Linked DNA regions of Homo sapiens: region 1 is linked to region 2. Evidence: fine-mapped expression QTL. A gene starts in region 2. The other region holds a variant in brackets. All regions are shown on one strand. Distances are from middle to middle.

Region 1 (8,000 bases), 50 kb after region 2:
CTTTAGTAGTTTTTTGTATTATTTAACTTCATGTGTTTATCTGCTCTTGAGTCTCGAGGGCAGGATTTATGCAGTTTACTTCTGTTTATTCCTCTTAGCCCTTGCACAGTGCTGTATACATAGACATCTACTATATTTTTGTTAAACAGAGCAAAGAATGGCTGGCAATTGGAGAATGCAGAGAAACCGAAAAATTTTAAATTTAAAAATCACAAATAAAAACAGCAGGATGAAGGCAAGAAAGCAAAAGGGTGGAAAGTGATTAAAATGAAGGTGGCAGAAAAAACAGAAAGCATTCCTCTTTGAGTTTGAGTCTGTTATAGTGTGATCTCTTCTGTGTATGCATGTATGTGTGTGTAATGTATATGTGCACACACATGCATGCATGCCTTCGTTGAGTTTCTATTCCGAACTAAGGAAATGCAAGCAATATACTGTTTTACTTATTTTATGGCAGGGCTTAACACTTTCCATTTGAGTGAGTGACTTTTAAGAATGACATCGGGTAAGTATAATGGTGAGCCCTTATAATTAATACATTGGTGAAGAAAAATATACTAGTCATATTAAGGTAAGTTTCATATTTCTAAAACACTGTAATAAAATATAAATATTTTGCTTTTCAGCTGTCAGTGGTAGCTATAGGAATTAACATATACAGAACATCAAATGTGGAGGTGCTACTACAGTTTCTGGAAGATCAAAATACTTTCCCCAACTTTGAGCATCTGGCATATTGGCAGATACAGTTCAACAATATAGCTGCTGTCACAGTATTTTTTGTCTGGATTAAGGTAATTTATAAATTTCATGTTCTACATTTTAAATAATATTTTCTTTAAAAAAAATGAGTTCCACAAAATCATGGAATACTTGAATTTGAAATTCAAGTGACCAGCCAAAGCTGCTCAATATTTACTTTGAGACAGGGTCTCACTCTGTCACCCAGGCTGGAGTGCAGTGGTATGATTACAGCTCATTGCAGCCTCGACTTCCCAGGCCCAAGCGATCCTCCCACCTTATCCTCCGAAGTCACTGGGACTACAGGCATGTGCCACCATACCCGGCTAATTTTTAAATTTTTTCGTAGAGACAAGGTCTCATTATGTTGCCCAGGCTGGTTTTGAACTCCTGGGTTCAAGCAATCCTCCCACCTCAGCCTCCCAAAGTGCTGGGATTACAGGCATGAGCCACCGTGCCAGGCCTCATATTTTACATATAAAGTAAACTATTGAGACTCATGTGATCATTCCTCTCACTGTCAATGACATACTTCTGCTATCTGAATTAGTGCAAGATCAGTCCCTATAGGTTTTGTTTAACAAATGCAGTAAGAGGCCTTTCAGTGTGTTAGCTGGGCCTGGGGCCCCAGGCTGCTAACAGATGAGATGAACAGGTGAAGGAAAAGGAACTTAGAGAAAGAGAGGGAAGGAGCAGGTGGAGGGAAGGGGAGAGTTGCTGCACTTGGAAATGCTTGCTAGAAGGGATCGCCTCTTTTCCAGGTAGAGGCTGTAAGGGAAGCTTTACCTAGAATTAAGGTTGGAACAGACACTGCTTCCAAATAGTTCCTTGCTCACTATTTTCCTTATTGTCCCAAGATATAATGTGCATTTCCATGTGTGTGAAAGGTTATGACATTTCATATACAACAAGCCTCAATTCTGGAGATGCAGGAAATTTCAATAATTCTCAGGCAGCAGCTGCCATTCGGTCACCAGCACAGGCTCTGATTGTGCTGTCCAGACAGTAAGTACTAGCCACATGTGCCTATTTAAATTCAAATTTAAATTAGTTAAGCTTAAATACAATTAAAAACGCAGTTCCTTGGTCCTACTGGCCACACATTAAGTGTTCAATGGCTACTGTCTAGGACAGTGGAAATGTAGAACATTTCCATCATCACAGAACGTTCTCTTGAAAAGCACTGTTCTGGAAGGTACTTACCCGTTATGTACTTTTCTGAGTTGGTATTCATACCTAGAAGACCTGAGGTTTATCACAAGACATAGACTTGGACCAGGCGCAGTGGCTCATGCCTGTAATTCCAGCATTTTGGGAGGCCGAGATAGGTCCCCTGAGCCCAGGAGTCTGATACCAGCCTGGGCAACATGGCAAAACCTCATCTCTACTAAAAATACAAAAATTAGCTGGGGGTGGTGGCACGTGCCTGTAGTCCTAGCTACTTAGGAGGCTTAGGCGGGAGGATTGCTTGAATCCAGAAGGCGGAGGGTGCAGTGAGCCAAGATCGCACCGCTGCACTCCAGCCTGGGCAACAGAGTGAGACCCTGTCTCAAAAAAAAAAAAAAAATGCATAGACTTTATCCTGTATTTCTCATGCTATTTATTTATTGACATGCTTGTTCAAGAGAAACCATCACTAAAGCACAAAACCTTGATCATAACATAGTAATAATAATCAAACAGCAAAAATAATAATAGTAATAAGAATGTTCTGTGGTGATGGAAATGTTCTATATTTTCATTGTCCTAGACAGTAGCCACTAACCATGTATAGGCATGGAACACTTAACATGTGGCTAGTAGGACCAAGGGACTGAATTTTTAATTGTATTTAATCTTACTTAATTTAAATTTGAATTTAGATATCCACACATGTTTGGATAGCACAGTCAGAGCCTGTGCTGGTGAAAGGATGGCAGGTGCTGCCTGAGAATTACTGAAGTTTCCTTGATTATTATTAGTTTAATAATAATAATCAAGATAGTAATAATAATCAAGATAGTAATAATAATCAAGATCTCAGCTGGGCACAGTGGCTCACGCACTTTGGGAGGCTGAGGCGGGCAGATCACCTGACGTCGGGTTTGAGACCAGCCTGGCCAACATGGTGAAACCCTGTCCCTACTAAAAATACAAAAAAAAAAAATTAGCTGGGTGTGGTGGCACGTGCCTATGATCCCAGCTACTTGGGAATCTGAGGCAGGAGAATTGCTTGAACCCAGGAAGCAGAGGTTGCGGTGAGCTGAATCATGCCACTGCACTCCAGCCTGGGCAACAGAGCAGCACTTCGTCTCAAAAAAAAAAAAAAAAGATCTCAAATGAATTGGGATTGTATTAAGTAATGATTAAGTAATGTGATTACAGCAATCCTCAAGAAATATTTCACTGTGGCCAGTAACAATGTGTAACAGACCTTTAAACTTCTAGAGATTTTCCTACAACATGTGTCTCAGGCTGATGTGTTTTATTTAGTGCTTCTCTTGGAAATGTCTTGCCCCTCGATACTTTATCATTAAGGTCTTTAAGGCAGGGATCATGACTCTACTTTTTTTTTTTTTTTTTTTTTTGGGACGGAGTCTTGCTCTGTCGCCCAGGCTGGAGTGCAGTGGCACAATCTTAGCTCACTGCAACCTCCGTCTCCTGGGTTCACGCCATTCTCCTGCCTCAGCCTCCCGAGTAGCTGGGACTACAGGCGGCTGCCACCACGCCCGGCTAATTTTTTATATTTTTAGTAGAGACGGGGTTTCACCGTGTTAGCCAGGATGGTCTCGATCTCCTGACCTCGTGATCCACCCACCTCGGCCTCCCAAAGTGCTGGGATTACAGGCTTGAGCCACCA[C/T]GCCCGGCCTCATGACTCTACTTCTAATATCTCATCATGTGCTCTTCCACTGAGGCTTCTACTTAGAGCTACACAATCTGGGCAGCCATCCTCAGTGCCTTATCTACCAACATGCTCAATATGGCTTTGCAGGGTTCACTGTCTACCAGCAGGGTTCACTATCTACCAACATGCTCAATATTTCTTTGCAGTCAGGCAGAGCAGGCTTTGCAGTTCAGGCAGGGCAGCTGGCTGCAGGCCCCAGCTGACTCCTGGGGATAGAATGCCAATATTTCAGACATTGCAGAGATTTGAGGCAATGTACATAAAGCCCTCCACATATAACTGATGCACAATAAATGACAGTTAATATTATGCAACAAGAATTTCCTGGGGGGTTTTATAATTAATTTTTATTTGTGTGAAGTTTTTTCCCTCCCTTTTACTTTAATCCTTTTTGGGGGGAAAGCATCACTAGTCACAGTTCACGGCAGCCTCGACCTCCCAGGCTCAAGCAACCCTCCCACCTCAGCCTCCTGAGTAGCTGAAACCACAGGTGTGTGCCACCACACCTGACTAATTTATTTTTATTTTCTAATGAAACAGAATCTTGCCATATTGCCCAGGCTGATCTTAAACTCATGGGCTCAAGCGATCCTCCTGCCTCAGTCTTCCAAAGTGCCGGGATTATAGATGTGAGCCACTGCACTCAGCCTTTTTTTTTTTTTTTTTAATTGTAGATAGCATAAAACCTACTGTTTTAACCATGCTTAAGTGTACAATTCAGTGGCATTAAGTACATTCACAGTGTTGTGCAGCCATCGCCATTATGCTGCATTATTTTCAGAACTTTTTCATTATTCTAAACTGAAACTTTGTATCCATTGAACACTAACTCCCAATTCCCCCAGTCCCTGGTAACCTCCATTCTACTTTCTGTCACTGTGAGTTTGACTATTCTAAGTACCTAATTTAAGTGGAATCATACAGTATTTGTCCTTTTGTGTCAGGCTTATTTCACTTTGCATGATGTTTTCAAGGTTCATCCATGTTGTAACCTGTCAGAATTTAATTTCTTTTCAGGATGAAATAATGTTTTATTATATACAGTCACACCATTTTGTTTATCCATTCATCTATTGATGTCTTCTCTCTCTTACAGCTCTTCAAATTCATCAATTTTAACAGGACCATGAGCCAGCTCTCGACAACCATGTCTCGATGTGCCAAAGACCTGTTTGGCTTTGCTATTATGTTCTTCATTATTTTCCTAGCGTATGCTCAGTTGGCATACCTTGTCTTTGGCACTCAGGTCGATGACTTCAGTACTTTCCAAGAGTGTATGTAAGTATATATGAAATTAAGAAGAAAAATTTAATCAGAGTTGTCACTGCTTCTCAAGAATAAATCTTCATATGAGGTTGCTATATGACCACCAATTATTTAAAACCAGTTATTTTAAGTAAGAATTAATTACCTTTTCCCAAAACATTGATCTACCCATGCAAAGAAGACAATGCATCCTGAAATGCTGATGCTTAAGATAGCAGCCCAAAGTAGTAAAATACAGTTAACAGACATAGGAAACCAACACTGTTCTGAAGACTGAGTTTTTCTTTGCACCAAATGCAGATGGTAGCTTCTAGAAGGCTGTTTGCCTATATTCTTACTCCTGTTGAATATTGTTGCCATATATTTAGAACTTCAAGTTATTTTCTAAGGAAAAAAACAAGATATTTCTAATATTCTAAGGTAAACTCAGACCAGTACAAGAATTTTCAGTTTTTTTTTCCAAAGATCCCAAATGTGAAATAAAACAACAAAAAGCAGCCAGTGTCAGATTTCTATGCCATTTAGAAAGGAGTTAGTTTAAAAAGGAATGGAAGTAATAGGGTTTTGTGCATAGATATCTCGAATTAATATTGCTGTTGATAAAAGTGATTTTGCTAAGACCCAGCACTGACAACACTTGGCCACTTTGATCCCATTTTAAGTACTTGTCAGAATATTGGATCTTTGAACTCAAACCATTTTGGGTTTTTGGGGTTTTTTTGTTTTGTTTTTTTTTGTTTTGTTTTGTTTTTGAGGCACGGTCTTGCTCTGTTGCCCAGGCTGGAGTGCAGTGGTGCAATCATAGCTCACTGCAGCCTTGAACTCCTAGGCTCAAGCAATCCTGCTGCCTCAGCCTGCTGAGTAGCTGGGACTACAAGTGTATGCCACCATGCCTGGCCAATTTTTAACTTTTTTTATGAGAAGGGATCTCACTGTGTAGCCCAGGGTGGTATTGAACTCCAGGGCCTCACACTGTCCTCTCACCTCAGCTTCCAAAAGTACTGGGATTACAGGCATGAGCCACCACACCAGGCCCTGTTGTTTTTTTTTTAAAGAAATTTTTAACTTTAGACCGAGGGTGACTGTTGTCAAGGTTTAGGGTTAAGATGTTTTACCTAGATTATGTGTTGAAATGTTATAGCCAATTGCTTTATAAGTTATTGAATAATAATTGTATTTTCTTTTTTTTTTTTTTTTTGAGATGGAGTCTCGTTCCATCGCCCAAGCTAGAGTGCAGCGGTGTAATCTCAGCTCACTGCAACCTCTGCCTCCCGGGTTCAAGCGATTCTCCTGCCTCAGCCTCCCGAATAGCTGAGATTATGGGCGCACGCCACCAAGCCCAGCTAATTTTTGTATTTTTAGTAGAGACGGGGTTTCACTATATTGGCCAGGCTGTTCTCGAACTCCTGACCTCGTGATCCGCCCGCCTCGGCCTCCCAAAGTGCTGGGATTACAGACGTGATCCACCGTGCCCAGCTTGTGTTTTCTTTTTAACCAAATGGAAATAACCTCTGTAGCATGAAAGCATTTTATTATTATTGCAGAAGGCTTTAATTGCTGATACAAGTAGCAAGACTTTGTAAATGGGATTGACAATTTTCTGTTATTCGGCAGCTACCTATACTGCTAAAAGGTCCAAAAATAATGAAATCATCTTTAAGAAATGTTGCATCAACTAGTGGACATTCTTTGTTTTTGTATTGTGGTGTTTTGTTTTATTTTTATAGCTTCACTCAATTCCGTATCATTTTGGGCGATATCAACTTTGCAGAGATTGAGGAAGCTAATCGAGTTTTGGGACCAATTTATTTCACTACATTTGTGTTCTTTATGTTCTTCATTCTTTTGGTATGTACATTTTTATTTATAGTGAGGTTCAATTTAAACTTCGTAAATCCTTGTCTTCTCTTTTCTCTCACACTTTATGTCCTATCAATTTTAAATAAAGACCCAGGAAGTAGAAAAAAGTGTGGATGTTGGAAAACTTATTTTCCTTTTATTAATTCACAGTTTTGAGACTCATATCAAATGTCTTTTCTGTGGTCTTTCATTGATCCATGTATATGTGTCTATTCAATGCAAAAAAAATTAGATCTCTTCCATGGTCTTTCATTTCTCTCTCTATATATGTATCTATTCCATGCAAAAAAGAAATTAGATCAAGTACAAATTTATAAAGATACCTAAAATAGTGCTTTGCCTAAAAAGTAGAATATGCTTACATGCTTTTTAAACTCATATGTCAGCACTTTCGTAGTCACTTGCTAGCATGACTTTTCTCTCTTTCTTCTTTTCTTTTTAAAAAATAAGAACGGAAAAGCAAGCTAGATCTAAGATGTCGAGTAATAGTTGAGTGAATCATTGCATGTCAAAATTAGGATATTCTGTTTTAAATTATTTATATCCCATTCATCTAGAGACTGCCTACAGAGAATATTCAAATAATTAAGTTTAAAACTAAATGTAACAATGAATGGAAATTGCATTAAAATTATTTTCAAAAATAATTTTTTTATTCTCTTGATTTGGTACAAATGAACATTTTTAATGTTTTTGCCCTAAGTCAATTAAGTTTTTTTAAGGTGTTTTGTTCTTTTTCTTAACATTTATATATTCAATTGTCTACTGAGAAGGTGTTAAGCCAGCTTAATTTAGGCAATATTTTTCATCTAAACACTAACAGTCATCTTAAGAACAATTTTCTTAAGAAAATAACATTTTTTCCATTTCAGTAAATTGTGTAAAGATCCCTTGAGGAAGGTTAAGTGATCACATTTTCAGTAATTCAGTGTAATAACTCTAAAGTCAGTCCAGGTATTACTGGTTAAGTATATGGTATTTATTGATTGGGTATTAGATGTACTGTATTAATTTCCTGTTTAAAAAAAATTTTTTTTCCGGGGAGACACAGCCTCTGGTGTAAAACAAAGGTGTGTTCCCTAGCTGTACTTTAACAGGACTGAAAAGGTCAGGAATATCATTCAAGTTCATATGTATCTTGCTGTATGCATGGTTTATGGCTCATTTTTAAACTTACACCTCTTAAGCTTCTTCTTCCTATCATATATTAAAACAATGGAGAGAAGAATAAGCCTCTGTTACTCTACCA
Region 2 (15,206 bases):
AGTTCTTTCCCTTGCCTCAGGTGGGTTCACCAAACGCATGATCTGAAAACTCAAGGGAAACTCTGTGGAGGTAGCTGGAGCTCTTTCTCTGCACAATACTCTTTTTTTTAGTTCTTTGTGAATTCTGTCCACTTTGACTTTCCCCAAATTCTCAATGAACTCTGTCTTCTCAATTGAGTGAGACTGATAGCTTGAAATCTCTTTCTAGGGAATCAGTAGAGAAACCATAGGGTTTACTTCCTTTTTTTATCTTCTTTGAAAAATTACTGTTTATACTGCCTGTTGTCCCATGTTTCAGAACCATCCTTTATAAATTTTGTCTGTATTTTGTTTAAGTAAGAGGGTAAATCTGTCCGTGTTGCTCCATCAGAGCCAGGAACAGAAATCCTTTAAAAATAATTTTAACTTTAAAAAAGAATGAAAAATATAAAATAAAATACATGACCATGGAAAAATGAAAAGTGAGCTGGCAGAATTCACAGGAGGAATTAAAGATTTTCAATAAATAATTAGGAAAAGAAAAGCCACCTTTAAAACCACAAAATCATGAATGGTACAATAATATGAAGGTCAAGATTTATAAAAATCCTATTAAAAATAAAAATAGAAAATGACAGAAAGAGAAATTAGAAAGGAGATAATACAGAAACATGACACAGTAGCTCAACATATGCGTAATAGGTATTGCTAAATTTACAGAATTAATGAAACAGCAGATTATTTGAAATTATAAAAGAAGAAAACCTTGTTAAAATAAGTAAAAATTTGAATTTGCTGATTAAACATGCACAATATCTCCTAGGTAAATAATTATGCTGAATAATCAACAGAAAGATGTATCTGAGAGCAGGATAACAATAACAATAGTAATAATAATAATTTCACTAAACAGACATAACTTTTGGGCCAAATAATAATCATAATAAAATACTCATCTACTCAGCCTGAGAGAAAAACAATGGGTTTAATCTGACCTCCTACTTTTCCCATAACAACATTTAATGGCAGAGGAAAGTGGAGGAATATTTAGAAAATCCTAAAGAGGAGGAGAAAAGATTAAACTGAAAAATATAATGCCCAATCCATTCGTTTTATGTCTATGGTAACAGAAAGGCCTTCTTAATTTTAAACAGTTTTGGGGAATAATGAAGCATTAATGGGTTGTTCTTTGAAAACAAACCAAAAAAAAAACACCTAATAAAAAATCTACTCCAGAAGGTTTAAATAAAGAGAAAAAAATTCAAGGAAGAAAAATTCATGTTAGTAAAGTACTGGTAGTAACTAACTATTGGGTACTATGCTCAGTACCTGGATGACATGATCTTTCATACCCCAAATCTCAGCATCACACAATATACCCAGGTAACAAACCTGCACATATACCTCTGAGTCTAAAATAAAAGTTGAAAAAAAGAGAGAAAACTAGCTTTATTTTTAATGGTTTGCTTTAATGTAACAGCGGTGTGTTAACTCAGTACAAACATTGAAGGTGATCAGAAAACTCATGAATTTTTATTATAGGAACTGTGGAATATTCTATATATATCTGAAACTTATAGTTACTTGTTTTAGGATATCCATAATAAAACTCTTTCATGTGGTTTTCTGGGTCATTGTTTTCAGGAATAAGCTTGGTGTATAATATTGAATGCTCTTAGAAGTTGGATCTGCATATTTTCTCTTTTATCTCTACAAATTAAACAATACTAGGAACTATCTTCTATAAAATATAAATTTAACAATATGTTAATGACTATCTATAAAGATAATATACTTTTAAAAAAGTACTGGTAGTGAACAATGAAAAATTAAAATATATAAAATAAGTTATATTTACTGTTGTACCACAAAATGAAAGTTTATAGACTTTGGCAAATGTAAAAGATATTTATTTTAAAAGGTGTTTGTTGGTAAAAAGTTTACATTTGCTAATATCCTTATCTTTAAGAAGAAAGGTCAAAGGCTACTGTATTAGTCCATTTTCACACTGCTATAAAGCTACTATCCAAGACTGGGTAATTTATAAAGGAAAAAGGTTTAATTGACTCACAGTTCTACATGGCTGGGGAGGCCTCAGGAAACTTACAATCATGGCGGAAGGAGAAGGGGAAGCAAGGACCTTCTTCACCTGGTGGCAGGAGAGAGAAGTGAGGATGCAGGAAAAACTGCCATTCATAAAACCATCAGATCTCATGAGAATTCACTCACTATCACGAGAACAGCATGGGGGAAACTGCCTTCATAATTCAATCACCTCCCTCCCTTGACATGTGGGGATTACAACTGGAGATAAGATTTGAGTGGAGACACAGAGCTAAACTATATCAGCTACTGAAAAAAGTTGATAAATTAAAAAAAAATTAAAAATAAAAATAAAAAAAAAAGTAGACAAGGCTTAATTTTGTTGATGAAACCTATGACAGACTTCTAGACCCACCTTACTTTCAAATTCTTGGGCACTTAAAATAATTACTTAAGTAATATAAAGTGTACAGAAGCCAACAGAGAATATGTTTCTTTGCCTTAGTCCTCCAGTCCTACCCTATGTATAACGTGCCCCCAGCATATACCCTTTGTATACATAGGACTGTTGTCTTACCACAGAAACTAAGAACTAGAATTGTTGGATCAAATGGAATGCACTTTTTAAATAGTAATATATGCTGCCCAACTATCTTCCGAAAAGCCTTCACTACATTATTATAATCTCACCAAAAGCACATAGATGAGAATACCTATTGCCTATATTTATTAACACTGAATGTTATTGATCTATTGAATAAAAAGTTATCTTAATATAAAATTTCAAAAAAAAAAAAAAAATTGAAGATAAGCCACAGACTGAAAGAAAATATTTGCAAAAGACCTATCTGATAAAGGATTGTGATTCAAAATATACAAAGAACCCTTAAAGTTCAACAAGAAAATAAGCCACCCGATTGAAAAATAGGCCCAAAAGACTTACCAGGCAGGGTAGATACCATGACCACAAGGGTAGTTTTCCCTAGGGCAAGGCTTCTCTATTCCACTGAAGACTTGCTGATCCCTGTGATTTCTCCAAATGTGGGAAACTCAACTGCGTAATTTGTGGTAGCAGCATACTGCATTCATGCTTTTCCCCAGTAAATAAAAGGAAAAAATGAGCCAACAACCTGAACAGACACCTTACCAAAGAAGATATACAGATGGCAACTGAGCATATGAAAAGATGCTCCACATATATGTCAATAAGGAATTGCAAATTAAAACAACGAGATCCAATTGCCCGCCCATTTGAATGGCCAAAATCCAAAACACTGATAATGCTACTGCTGTTGAGGATGTGGAAAAAGAACTCTTATTTATTGCTGATGGGAATGCTGTAAATAATATTACAAAGACATGTGTACCTGTATATTCATTGCAGCACTATTCATAATAGCAAAGACATAGAGTCAATCTAGGTGCCCATCAATGATGGATTGGATTTTTTAAAACATGGTACTATACACTATGAAATACTATGAAGCTATGAAAAAGAATAAAATCATGTCCTGTGCAGCAACATGGATGCAGCTGGAGGCCATTAACCTAAACAAATTAACATAGTAACTGAAAGCCAAATACCACATGTTCTCACTTATAAGTGGGAGCTAACCTTTGGGTGCCCATGGATAAAGATGGCAACAATAGACAGTGGGGAATACAAGAGGAGGGAGGGAGGGAAAGGGGCAAGGGTAAAGTTGAAATAATTTTTTTAATTTTTTAAAAGGATATTTTTTGGCTCATGGAGTCCAGGGGTGGATCTAGCTTCAATTAGTTCTAACTCAGGGGTTCAAATGATGTCCTGAGAACCTAGTCTTTCTCTGTCTCTTTGATCTACTCTCTTAAAATACAGATTCCTAGGACCTAGCTGAGACATAATGAATCAGAATCCCTAGAAGTTAGACTCCAGAATCTTTATTTAAAATAAAACAAAACAAAAAAAACTTCCCAGAAGAATGTCATAAAGCTCTTATTGGTTAAATGTTTTATCCATGTATAGCAAGCTAGTTACAAGCTTCTTGCAGGCATAAACAACTTCTTTAGCATCCTAATCATATCTAAGATTGTACGAAGGGGACATAAAACAGGTACTCTGCAAAGTCTGGTAGATCTGGGAATGCTGGAAGCCTCATTCATGTTGGCATCAAAAGGTATTTGAAAAAAAATTGTGATAAGCTTTGGAAAAATCTGGGCTAGTGAAAATTGGATTTAAAGTTTTTTTAAAATACAACTATACCCAAACAGTACTAGTGAATAAACTAGAGTTGATGAAGAGAAGAGCTGCACACAGTATTTCAAAGAACTCTGTTCTTGGCCCCAATTTGTTCAAAATTCTTTTGAACTTGGATAAAAATATAGATAATAAATATCATAATCTGCATCTGACAAAACCAGGAGATGGCACACAATAAAAATGTATTTCATAATGTTCTTGAATAGCATGGCCACCCAAACATTAGTTCAATTTTAGTATTCTTCCAGTATCCACATTATAAATATTTTTTGTATCTCCATTGTTGGCGCCATTTTTCCCCTGAGCATCAACATTTTGGCTGCCAGCTTGTCTGGACTTACATCTTTAAAACTCTAAATCTGGTGGGAAGAAAAGCTTTTCTTTTCCAACAACTGGAAAAAAATTTCTGGCCTAATTTTTTTTTTTAACACAACAGGATAACATACTTGTGAAATACCATTCACAGGGGCCAAGGAGACGTGATGCTGATTGGGCAAGCCTGAGCTCCACAATCACCACTTGGGAGCTAGCAGTGGTGTCTGCCACACCTGAGACACATATAGGCTAAGAATGGCAGCAGGGGTGGGTAGGTGGGGGTGTCCCCAAGAAAACTTGCACTAGAAAACAGACTGGCTGCTGAGCTGCTAATAAGCCAGGGTCCCTGCTCTCCAGGAGCTTATGTGCCACTCACGAAGACGTCTATGTGAACAGATATTTTCAGTATAAGGTGGCAAATGTTGGAATAAAGGTTTACAGGGTAGAGAGGCATGTCAATTCATGCTGGGGGCCAAGATTGTGTCTATGGAAGGTTCCAGGGAGAGATGAAGTCTGAGTCTAGAAAAATTCCTAAGTTTTTATGGGTAGAGAAGTTGAGAATGATCTATGGATGTTTCCAGGCAGTTTAACTATAAGATTTGATCTCATTGAAGGTAGGAATCATGTCTTATCTTTGTCACTCTGGAATGCAACACAGTGACTGGCATGTAGCGGACACTCAATACATGTTTTATAAACTTATTAATATTCCTTCATTAGTCCTCAACAAAAATTCTGTGGGGGATTTATAAGATGGGTATTTAACCTCATTATCCAGAGAAGGAAATTGAGATAGAGAGATTAGGTCATCAAGATCACGGTGCCAGCCAATTATGGTGCCAAGATAACCCCACAGAGACAGGGATGTATGCAGGCCAATCCAAACCAAATCTATCATGAAGAAGGCCACAAATCCTAGCTTTATGTTATTAAAGCAGCAAAATGACAAACAAAGTAAAGTCAAAGTCTTACTGTGGTTAGCAGTTCTTCTCATAAAGCCCAAAACACCAGATTTTCTTCTAATGATTTCAGATGTCAAGTGGTAAAAATTGATTTTACAATGTTCTTGAGTAAATAAGTACTGGGGAAAAAAATGAGGAGGAAACATGTTTGTTTGGGTAAATTGCTAAGCAACACCACACATGCCAGAAACTCCTTTTGGATTTCCTCTCGAGGTGGAGACCGCGAAACCAACGGGTACTTCACTTTGTGTCTGTTTCATCAGTTCACACTGGAAAATAAAAGCCAAACAGGCAATTCTAATAATACAAGAGTCAGAGGTGTGGAGGCCACTAATATTAAATTAGACTGAACTGTTTAAGGTTGCCTTTTAAAATGGCTCCTTCCAGCGTCCACGGTGGCACTAAGACTGAGGTGAGATTTGTGCAGCGTGTCCAGGAAGATCTAGCACACTGATGAAAAAAAAAACAAACAGCAGCCAGGCCATGTTATCTATCCCACTCGGTATTTCCAGATGCTACAGATGATGGAAATTTGTAATGTGACAACAGGATTGTGGAAATGAGATGAAAAAAACTTTGTGCACGTCACTTATTTAATAATGGAAAATTTCTTATTAGAAGTAAGGTCTTCAGATGGGTATTAAAGGAAGGAATTCCGTGGGTAGGGAGAGAAATTTACAGCCTCAGGGCCTGCTTGAGCAAAAGCTGGGCACTCTAAAGGGGAGAAACAAATTAACATAAAAGCACAAAAGGGAACCTTAGTAAGCCAGAAGGAATGAATAAGTATTTGAACAGGAAATATATTAGATGGCTGGTGTTGGGTTTATGAAAATTAAGATTGAAATTAATATTGAAACTCCAAAATGTAAGATTTAGGGTGCAATGGACCAAATGCTATTTAAGTGGTATTACACAAAAATTGCTGCGAATTTTTAATGATTACATTTCTTGCAATAATTTGTAAAGAAAATTTTGGGTAAGCACACATATAACTCTGAATTATGTATGTGCAGACACATTTCCAATCAATTTGAATTCTTTTAAGGGTGAGGATATAGTTTCAGGAAGATTTCAGATTTTGTTTTAAATAGGAACTGACACTCTAGAAAGAAAAAAAAAAGGCCTATTTATGTTATCATTAACTATAGAGAGTCTGTACTCCTTAACACACATCTGAGGCTTCCTATGATCTGGCCCTACCTACCTTCCCTACCCATGCCAGCCTGGGCAATCTCTCTTCTAAATCCCCTCAAACCCTGTAAAATATAAGCTCACCTCTATGAGAGCTAGGCTTTTCCCCTATTTAATGAATTGCCGTCTCTCCTAGTATTGTGCCTGGCATATAGTAGGTGTTTAGTAAGTATTTGTTATAGAAGCCTCTAGGATTGGCATGGAGCCCTCCAGAAACTCACAGCCTAGCTGGAACAAAGACATCCACAAAAGCAATTATAATAGATGAAAATAGTTATCATAATTAAGATATAAGAGCTAAGACCACTTCTAACACTAACAAAGACATCCACAAAAGCAATTATCATAGATGAAAACAGTTATCATAATTAAGATATAAGAGCAAAGACTACTTCTAACACTATTAGCACGTACATGTCAGACGGTGTTCCACATGCTATGGTCTGGGTGTTTGTGTTCCCCCCCCATAATTCATACATTGAAATCCTAACCTTCAAAGTGATGGTATAAGGAGCTGGGGCCTCTGAGAGGTGATTACATCATGGGGCTGGAGCCCTCACAAATGGGATTAGTGCCCTTAGAGAAGCAGCTCAAGGGAGCTCTTTTGCCCCTTCTACCATAAGACACAGCTAGGAGGTGCAGTCTATGAACCAGAAAGTAGACCCTCACCAGACCACAAATCTGCTGGCAGCATGATCTTGGACCGTCCAGCTTCCAGAACTGTAAGAAATAAAGGTTCATCGTTTATAAGCCACCCACTACATGATATTTTTTATAGCAGCCCGAATGGACTAAAACACATGTATTAATTCACCTAATCCTCACAACAACCCTATGAGGTAGGCATTATCATTATCCTCATCTTTGGTGGTACAAGGAGATAAAGTGACTTTCCCAAGGTCACACAGCTAGGAAGTAGTGAGTAAATCAGAATCCAGGCAGTCTGGCTCCAGGGTCCTTACAACGAATTAGTGACTGCAGGCACAAGCATAGAGTAACCTGACTCAAAGACCACTGAATTTTCTTCTAAGTCTGGGATTCCAGATGATTGTCTCACTAGTGCTAACAGTGAAGTATAGAAATGTGGGGGAAATATTTATGAAACCTCTTCCATTTGGAACACATTGGTGCTTCTCAAACTTTGGATGCCTGAGAATCCCCTGTGAAGATTCAGAATTTCAGGACTGGAATCCGGAAGATTTTGAGTCAATAAGGTTGGAATGTGGACCCAGTATCTATATTTTTAGCAAGAGCTGCAAGTGATGCTGGAGATCTTCTGATCACAATTTGAAAACATTGTACTAGGCCTATTCTCCAGAGGACCCTTTGGCTCAGATTCTGCATTCTCTTTCCAGGCCTGGCTCTCCTCTGTTGGAATGTGTCTGTAAGAATCCTTCGACTCTGCAGTGCTGCTGGTGCTATTCAGGACATCTTCAGCTTCAGAAGTTCCTTGGATGACAGGCACCATAACCCTTAACCCACTTGGTAATCTCTCATTTTTGGTCTGTCTCCTCTTGAGGGCCAAGGCTGTATCATACTCCTCTCTACATGCCCAGACCTTAATTCAGGGCACAGGAAATGTCTTCAGAATGAACTGATGAATAGCATGAGCTAGGGCTGTGCTCCAGACCCACCAGTCTTGCCTTTGAGAAGCTCACAGTTAAGAGAAGAACATGAATATCTAAATTAATAAACTGCAGGATCAGGTAATAGGTAGCCATAATTACCTAAATATTAGCAGCATGTTATATGTGCCTAGAGAACAAATGAATAATTCATTAAGGTGGATGGATGGCATGGGATGCCATGCTAGAGGAGTACATTAAGAGCTGTTAAAGCTAAATTGTGTCCCCCCAAAAATTTCTGTGTTGAAGTCCTAACCCCCATTACCTCAGAACATGACCATACTTGGAGACAGGGTCTTTACAGAAGTAATGAAGTGAAAACAAGGTCATGAGGGTAGGCCCTAATCCAATATGATGTATAAGAATAGACAATTAGGACACAGACGCATACAGAGGGAAGAGGGAAGACGGCGTGAGGACACAAAAGCGGGGCCATCTGCAAGCCAAGGAGAGAGGCCTCAGAAGAAACCAACTCTGCCAACACCTCGTGAGAAAATACAATTTTTCTTTTCTTTTTCCTTCCTTCCTTCTTTTTTTCTTTCTTCTCTCTCTCTCTTTCTTTCTTTATGAGACAGAGTCTCACTCTGTCACTTGGAGTGCAGTGGCCCGATCTTGGCTCACTACATCCTCTGCCTCCCGGGCTCAAGCGATCCTCCCACCTCAGCGTCCCTAATAGCTGGGACCAAAGGCACACACCGCAAAGCCTGGCTAATTTTTGTATTTTTTGTAGAGACAAGGTGAGCAAATAAATTTCTGTTAAGCCACCCAGTCTCTGGTACTTTGTTATGGCAGCCCTAACAAACAAATACAGGAGCAGATTATGAGAATTTACTAAACCAAACCACAGAAATTAAATTTTATCCTTTCAGCTGCCAGAAGCCCACAGAGGTGTCTAAGCATCAACGTGACAAATAAGCAGCTTTGGTTCTGCAATATAACCTGGAAATAGTGAGGACACCGACGTGGAGAATAGAGATGGGAGTTGACAGGGATCAATTGTTCTAATGCGGAATAATGCAAGACATAAGATCAAGCCAGCAGGAGTGAGAAACAGAGATCATATCAGGGTGATATCTGTGGGGCAAAAGTAACAAGAAGATAAGGTGTAGGCGGTGGAGGGTAAACCGCGAGGCTTCCATGAAGAAGAGTGGCCTGGGAAGTGAGGAGGACAGCGAAGCCCCAAACCTCACCTTGGGATACGGGAAGTGAAGCAGGTTCCAGAGAAGGGGACAAGATAATGACTTAGGGTAGGATAAATTTCAGACAATTGCAGAGCATCACATTAGATGTGTTCAGAAGAGTGGAAATAAAGTTCTGTGCCTAGGCCCTCATGCAGGATTCTGTTGCTAGAAGTCAGTGCTGGCCGCAGGGAGACCGGAGATCACAGTGGAGGCACCAGCGATCCGAGAGTCCTATGACGAATCCCTGGGATCCCCACAATGTGTGGAGACAGAAGCCAACCAAAGAGCGAGAAAGCATCTCCAAACCAGCAGAATCAGGGGCAGGAGGCCCGCCAAATGCACAGCAAGTCAGCCTTGGTAGTTTGCAAATGGAAAGATTTCTTTGACCCGCTGGAGACTTCAGCTCAGGCTGGATGTCGCTAATTCACACCATCTCACCAAAAGGTTCTTTCCCTGCCCTTTGGTGAATCGAGGCAGAAGTGGCTGGTGGATAACTGGGACCCAAGAGTTATCTCAGCGTCGGGCAGGCATCGACAGCTCCAGGAGCCCTTTCCCTGCAGGCGGGCTGGCGGGTGAGCGATTCCCTCCCTTCCCAGGCCTTCCCGGGAATGGAACGTGGGCGCCCGCGCCCGGGCTCCGGTTCCACTTGGAACGCGGACTCGGGAGCCGCCGGGCGAGCGCGCAGACCGCGGGGGCGGCTCCCTCGCACCTCCCCGCTCAGCGCGCCGCGGCGGATGGGCGAGGCGGGGCGAGGCCAGAGGGAGGCGGGCCAAAGGGGCGGGCGAGAGGACGCGGGACCGCGGGGAGGTCGGGGGCGGGGAGCAGGCGGCGGCGGGCGCCGGGAAGAAAGGAACATGGCTCCTGAGGCGCACAGCGCCGAGCGCGGCGCCGCGCACCCGCGCGCCGGACGCCAGTGACCGCGATGGTGAACTCCAGTCGCGTGCAGCCTCAGCAGCCCGGGGACGCCAAGCGGCCGCCCGCGCCCCGCGCGCCGGACCCGGGCCGGCTGATGGCTGGCTGCGCGGCCGTGGGCGCCAGCCTCGCCGCCCCGGGCGGCCTCTGCGAGCAGCGGGGCCTGGAGATCGAGATGCAGCGCATCCGGCAGGCGGCCGCGCGGGACCCCCCGGCCGGAGCCGCGGCCTCCCCTTCTCCTCCGCTCTCGTCGTGCTCCCGGCAGGCGTGGAGCCGCGATAACCCCGGCTTCGAGGCCGAGGAGGAGGAGGAGGAGGTGGAAGGGGAAGAAGGCGGAATGGTGGTGGAGATGGACGTAGAGTGGCGCCCGGGCAGCCGGAGGTCGGCCGCCTCCTCGGCCGTGAGCTCCGTGGGCGCGCGGAGCCGGGGGCTTGGGGGCTACCACGGCGCGGGCCACCCGAGCGGGAGGCGGCGCCGGCGAGAGGACCAGGGCCCGCCGTGCCCCAGCCCAGTCGGCGGCGGGGACCCGCTGCATCGCCACCTCCCCCTGGAAGGGCAGCCGCCCCGAGTGGCCTGGGCGGAGAGGCTGGTTCGCGGGCTGCGAGGTAAGAGCGCGCGACCCGCAGCGGCAGATGCACGAACCAGAACGGCCGGCGCCGGCCGGGGCCATCGCCCGCTGCGGCAGCTCCCCGGGCTCCATCTCGCATCCCCTCTGCGTTCCGCCTCCCTTGGAAGCGCATTCCCCACCTCCGCTAGTGCTGCCCTATTTCCGGTACCCAGCGCGGAATTCCACTGCTCTTTTGTTGGTGCATATTTATTGGATACCTCCTTCTTCAGGATATGTCACCATAGTCTTTTTTACTGAAAATTAGTGAAAGCCTAATTAGAGTGAAAGAGTACATCTGGGTTTTGTTTTTTTTTTTCTTGTAGAGGAAAAAATGAACATTACTTGTGTAACTGATGGTAGTTGCAACTGCATATTTGCCAATGTCACAAAATCTAAAGGAAAATGTTATAGTCACCCGTGGTTTCCTTCTTGCCTGGACACTCCATTGTCCCGGGCTGAAAAGGGTAGCAGTACAGTGCATATAATGTCAAGTTGTGGGAGGAGTGTGGCAGATTGTCATTGGTGCATTTTTTTGGTGATGTGTGTGGTTGTTTTGAGGAGTGGGAGCTGTTAAGAACACCACAAATAGAATAAAATAATATCGTGAAGTTATTTGGCCGTTTCTAATTCTAGACATTTTTCTAAAAACAGTTGCAAAGGAAAGATTACATTGTTTTAAAAAAATTTGAAGTATGTTTTTAAATAACTAAATTAATGTTCTTTGAAATTCCACCAAAATGATGAAGTCACCAGATAGCAGCTGATAAATGTGTCTGAGCCCAGTGCGCCCAGCTCTACAAAAGGCAGAAGAGGAATTTTCAAATTTGCCAGTGCCCAGTAAGAGGACATGAATTTTCTAGTACCAGAGGAAATTCTCTTTTTACAAATTTTGTCAGAGGTATCCTTGGGAAAGTATTTCATTTGCTTTTACCCTCCAAATTATTTTAATCTATATTTTTAAGAGTTTCCATTCTCAGTTGAGTTTTTCTTGTTCTTCTCCTTCTGTCAGTTTTGAAAGTCTTGCACAAAAACAATCCAGGTGTTGTTACAGCAGTGTGATTAAAACCAGGTCAGGCCTACACTGAAATCCCAGTTCCACCACTCATTAGCTGTACGACCTTGAGCAAGTTACTTATCCTCTCTGATACCCAATTTTTGGATTTTTTTTTTTTTTAAAGAGATGATCATAACGCTTAGGACTTGACTCTTTGGGAGAATTAAGTGAGTTAAGACATAAAATGTGCAGCATGTATTTGTCATGTTATTAGCGCTTCAGAAATATAAATGTAAACATTTTGGTACTTCGTTTATGGAGATTCTTATACTAGTTAATTTTATTAAAAGCATGATGGGGAACAGAAGATCCTTTTCGGATAACCTGTGTGAGTAAATTAATAAAACACTAACACTTTTTAAGATTCAAAACTGGATTAATTATGTTATTTTACACCATTTAAAATGTGCATTTAAAAAATATTCACTGAAGTGAGAGAGAAGTTCCTTTTAAGTTAATAAATAATGGTAAGTTGCATGATCCTTTTAACTCAGTTTAAGCATTTGATAACACCCCTAACCTTGTTTGAATAAACTCAATAACAGAATATAGAGAAATAAAATATATATTTCATATGAGTATGTATGTAAATTTATTTCTTTTAAAGGAAAATTTCAGGAAACAAAATGAATAAGCTCATAGTCATAAAACCTCTAGCCAAAGTGTGTCAATGGTCTGATTTGTAGGAGAGCAGACTCAGGAATCGGGAATTTTTTTTTTTTTTTTAAGAGTCGGGGTTTCACTCTGTCACTGAGGCTGGAGTGCGGGGAAGCAAACGTAGCTCACTGCGGCCTCAAACTCCTGGGCTCAAGCTGCCCTCCCACCTCAGCTTCCCAAGTAGTTGGGATTACAGGTGCAAGCTGCTGCTCCTAGCTGAAAAGTTTTAATTATATAAAATGTTTAAATAAATTGTTATTCCTTTCTTTTATGAAGAAATATAATTGATATTCTTGTCACTTATTAAATAAGCAACATTTTAAAATGTTTAGCACCTACTGTGAAGATAGCACTGTGCTAGCTGCTATGAATAAACTAGAATAGCATATCACTGTTTTCCTATGGACAAAAACCCAGAAATGTAAAATAAATAGCCATGAATGGGTTGAGATTCCCCCTGCCCCCTTTGGATACTGATGACAGAAATCTTATATGCACTATGTAAGCAGTGCCCTAGGATCAGAACAGAAAGTAACTTGCAATTTTTAAAGGTGGGAGAAATGACTGAAGTTTGGAGTGGTCAGGAGTTTCCCTGGAAGTCTCTTGCCTTTGTGACTTTGTATAGCTCCCTCAAACTACCTGAGCCTGAGCTCCTCATTTATAAAATGGAAGAATTGAACCTAGCTTCCAAGGTCCTTTCTAGCTTCACCATGCTCTGGTCTGTTGTTTAATGACATGAATCCAAGATGGACAACAAATGGTCGATTTTGCTCCTTCTACAGTAAATAGATCTATCTTCTTAGCAGAAGTAAAATAGTAAAGAAAGAAGACATGTTTGAGGCCTGTTGAGGCCTGTTTGCTGTATGCATTGTATCTAATCAAGGAATTGAGAATGTAGCCCTAAATATTAGGAAGGAGTTGAAAGTTTCTGAGCAGGAACAGAACATGCTGAAAGGAAATTGTGTCAGCAGCATGGTGTACAGGAGAGCTTGGCAGAGAGAAAGGAGGCAAGAAGACCTGTGGGAGGCAGCCAGTAAGGAGGTGAAGAGGGCCTGGACCAAAGGAAGCCAAGGATGACCGAAAGATTTAAAGATGAAGCCCAGATTTAAAAGTATCCTCAAGTATTTGTTTATTCTTTTCTTAGCAAATTCTTTTTAGTACAAAGATAAAATATGGCACTCTGAGTCATAAAATTTTCTGAATTTCAGAAGTTGAATGTTTTTCTGAATGTATCAACCTGTTAAAGTCAGTTCCTGTTTGTTATTTTAGGCGTATATTCTTGGGCTTTTTTTTTTTTTTCCTAGAGAAACTATGAAGTACTAGCTGTGCAAGTCAGGGTGGGCTAAGCTGCTAAAACAGATACCTCCCTCCCCTTCAATACCCTGAAGAACAAGAAGTTAATTTTTTGCTCGTGTAACATTTTAGAGAGGGTATTCCAGGTTGAATACCTGGAATAATGAATGAAATAATAAGTCGACTCTTATTTCTCCTAAAATAATTGGATCTTGACATTGAAATTGGTGTGCTGATTGTATTTAATAAGTGACCTCCAATGCAGTTATTTCATTTTGCCATACTTTATGTAATTTTTATTTTTTCTGCCTTCCCTTTCGATGTCTAAAGGGAAGCATAATTAGTTATTGGAAAGGTTATTGAGACTTAAAAAAAGATTTGAACATGGCTTTGGTTGATGCTACCACACAGAAACTGCAAACATCCAACTCACCGCTCTTAGTTGCTGTTCATGATAGTCTATGCACAGTGACTGATGAATTTAGCCTGTCTTGAGGCTTCAGAACTTAGTCTTATGTCATCACGAGCAGAGCTTTATCCTAAATTACAGGTTTTCAATGGGGGGGGGGGGGAGGGGCAGTTTTGCCCCTCAGGGGACATTTGGCAATCTCTGGAGACATTTTTGATTGTCATACCTGGGGGGATGCCCCTGGCATCTCCTGGGTTGAGGTTAAGGATGCTGCTAATCTACAATGCACAGTACAGCCACCCCACACACACACACTACAAAGCATTCTCCCACCCAAATTGCCAGGAGTGAGGACTTTGAGAAACCCTGCCCTAGACTGTTAAATTCAAAAGGAAATAATGGTTTATTGCTCACAGTGTGCCAGGCACTGTGTTAAACTCCTTATATTCATAGTTTTGTTTTTATCCTCACAACAACCTGTGAAGAAAGAACTCTCATCCGTCACCACTTTACTGTTGAGGGCACTAAGCCTTCTAAAGGTTAAATGACTTGCCCAGGGCCGCAACTATTAGATGTTGCAGTCAGGATTTAATTCCAGGCACTTTGTGTTCAAAGTGTTTCTCATCCACTGTGCTATATGCCAGTAGTGCCCAAACCTAACTTTAGCCAGCAATTGTCTGCATCTCTTCAGTTTATGAACATTTATTTATTAGGACATGCAGGATAATCATACCAACACAGT

Evidence for each region.
Region 1: its variant is fine-mapped to the expression of PKD2 in whole blood (INTERVAL, PIP 0.96).

Annotation. Positions count from the first base shown.
Region 1 is chr4:88,051,365-88,059,364 of GRCh38, forward strand. PKD2 (polycystin 2, transient receptor potential cation channel) reads left to right here. Exons shown (of 15, transcript NM_000297.4): 7 at 627-794; 8 at 4,722-4,903; 9 at 6,619-6,739. Among named protein-coding and RNA genes, the nearest start is that of PKD2, 48 kb to the left of the region's middle. The variant C/T (reference allele first, on the strand shown) is at 3,581.
Region 2 is chr4:87,997,280-88,012,485 of GRCh38, forward strand. It overlaps PKD2 (polycystin 2, transient receptor potential cation channel), which reads left to right and starts at 10,356. Exons shown (of 15, transcript NM_000297.4): 1 at 10,356-11,049. The coding sequence starts at 10,455. It also overlaps the pseudogene RNU1-36P. RefSeq lists silencers at 10,119-11,048, 11,099-11,238.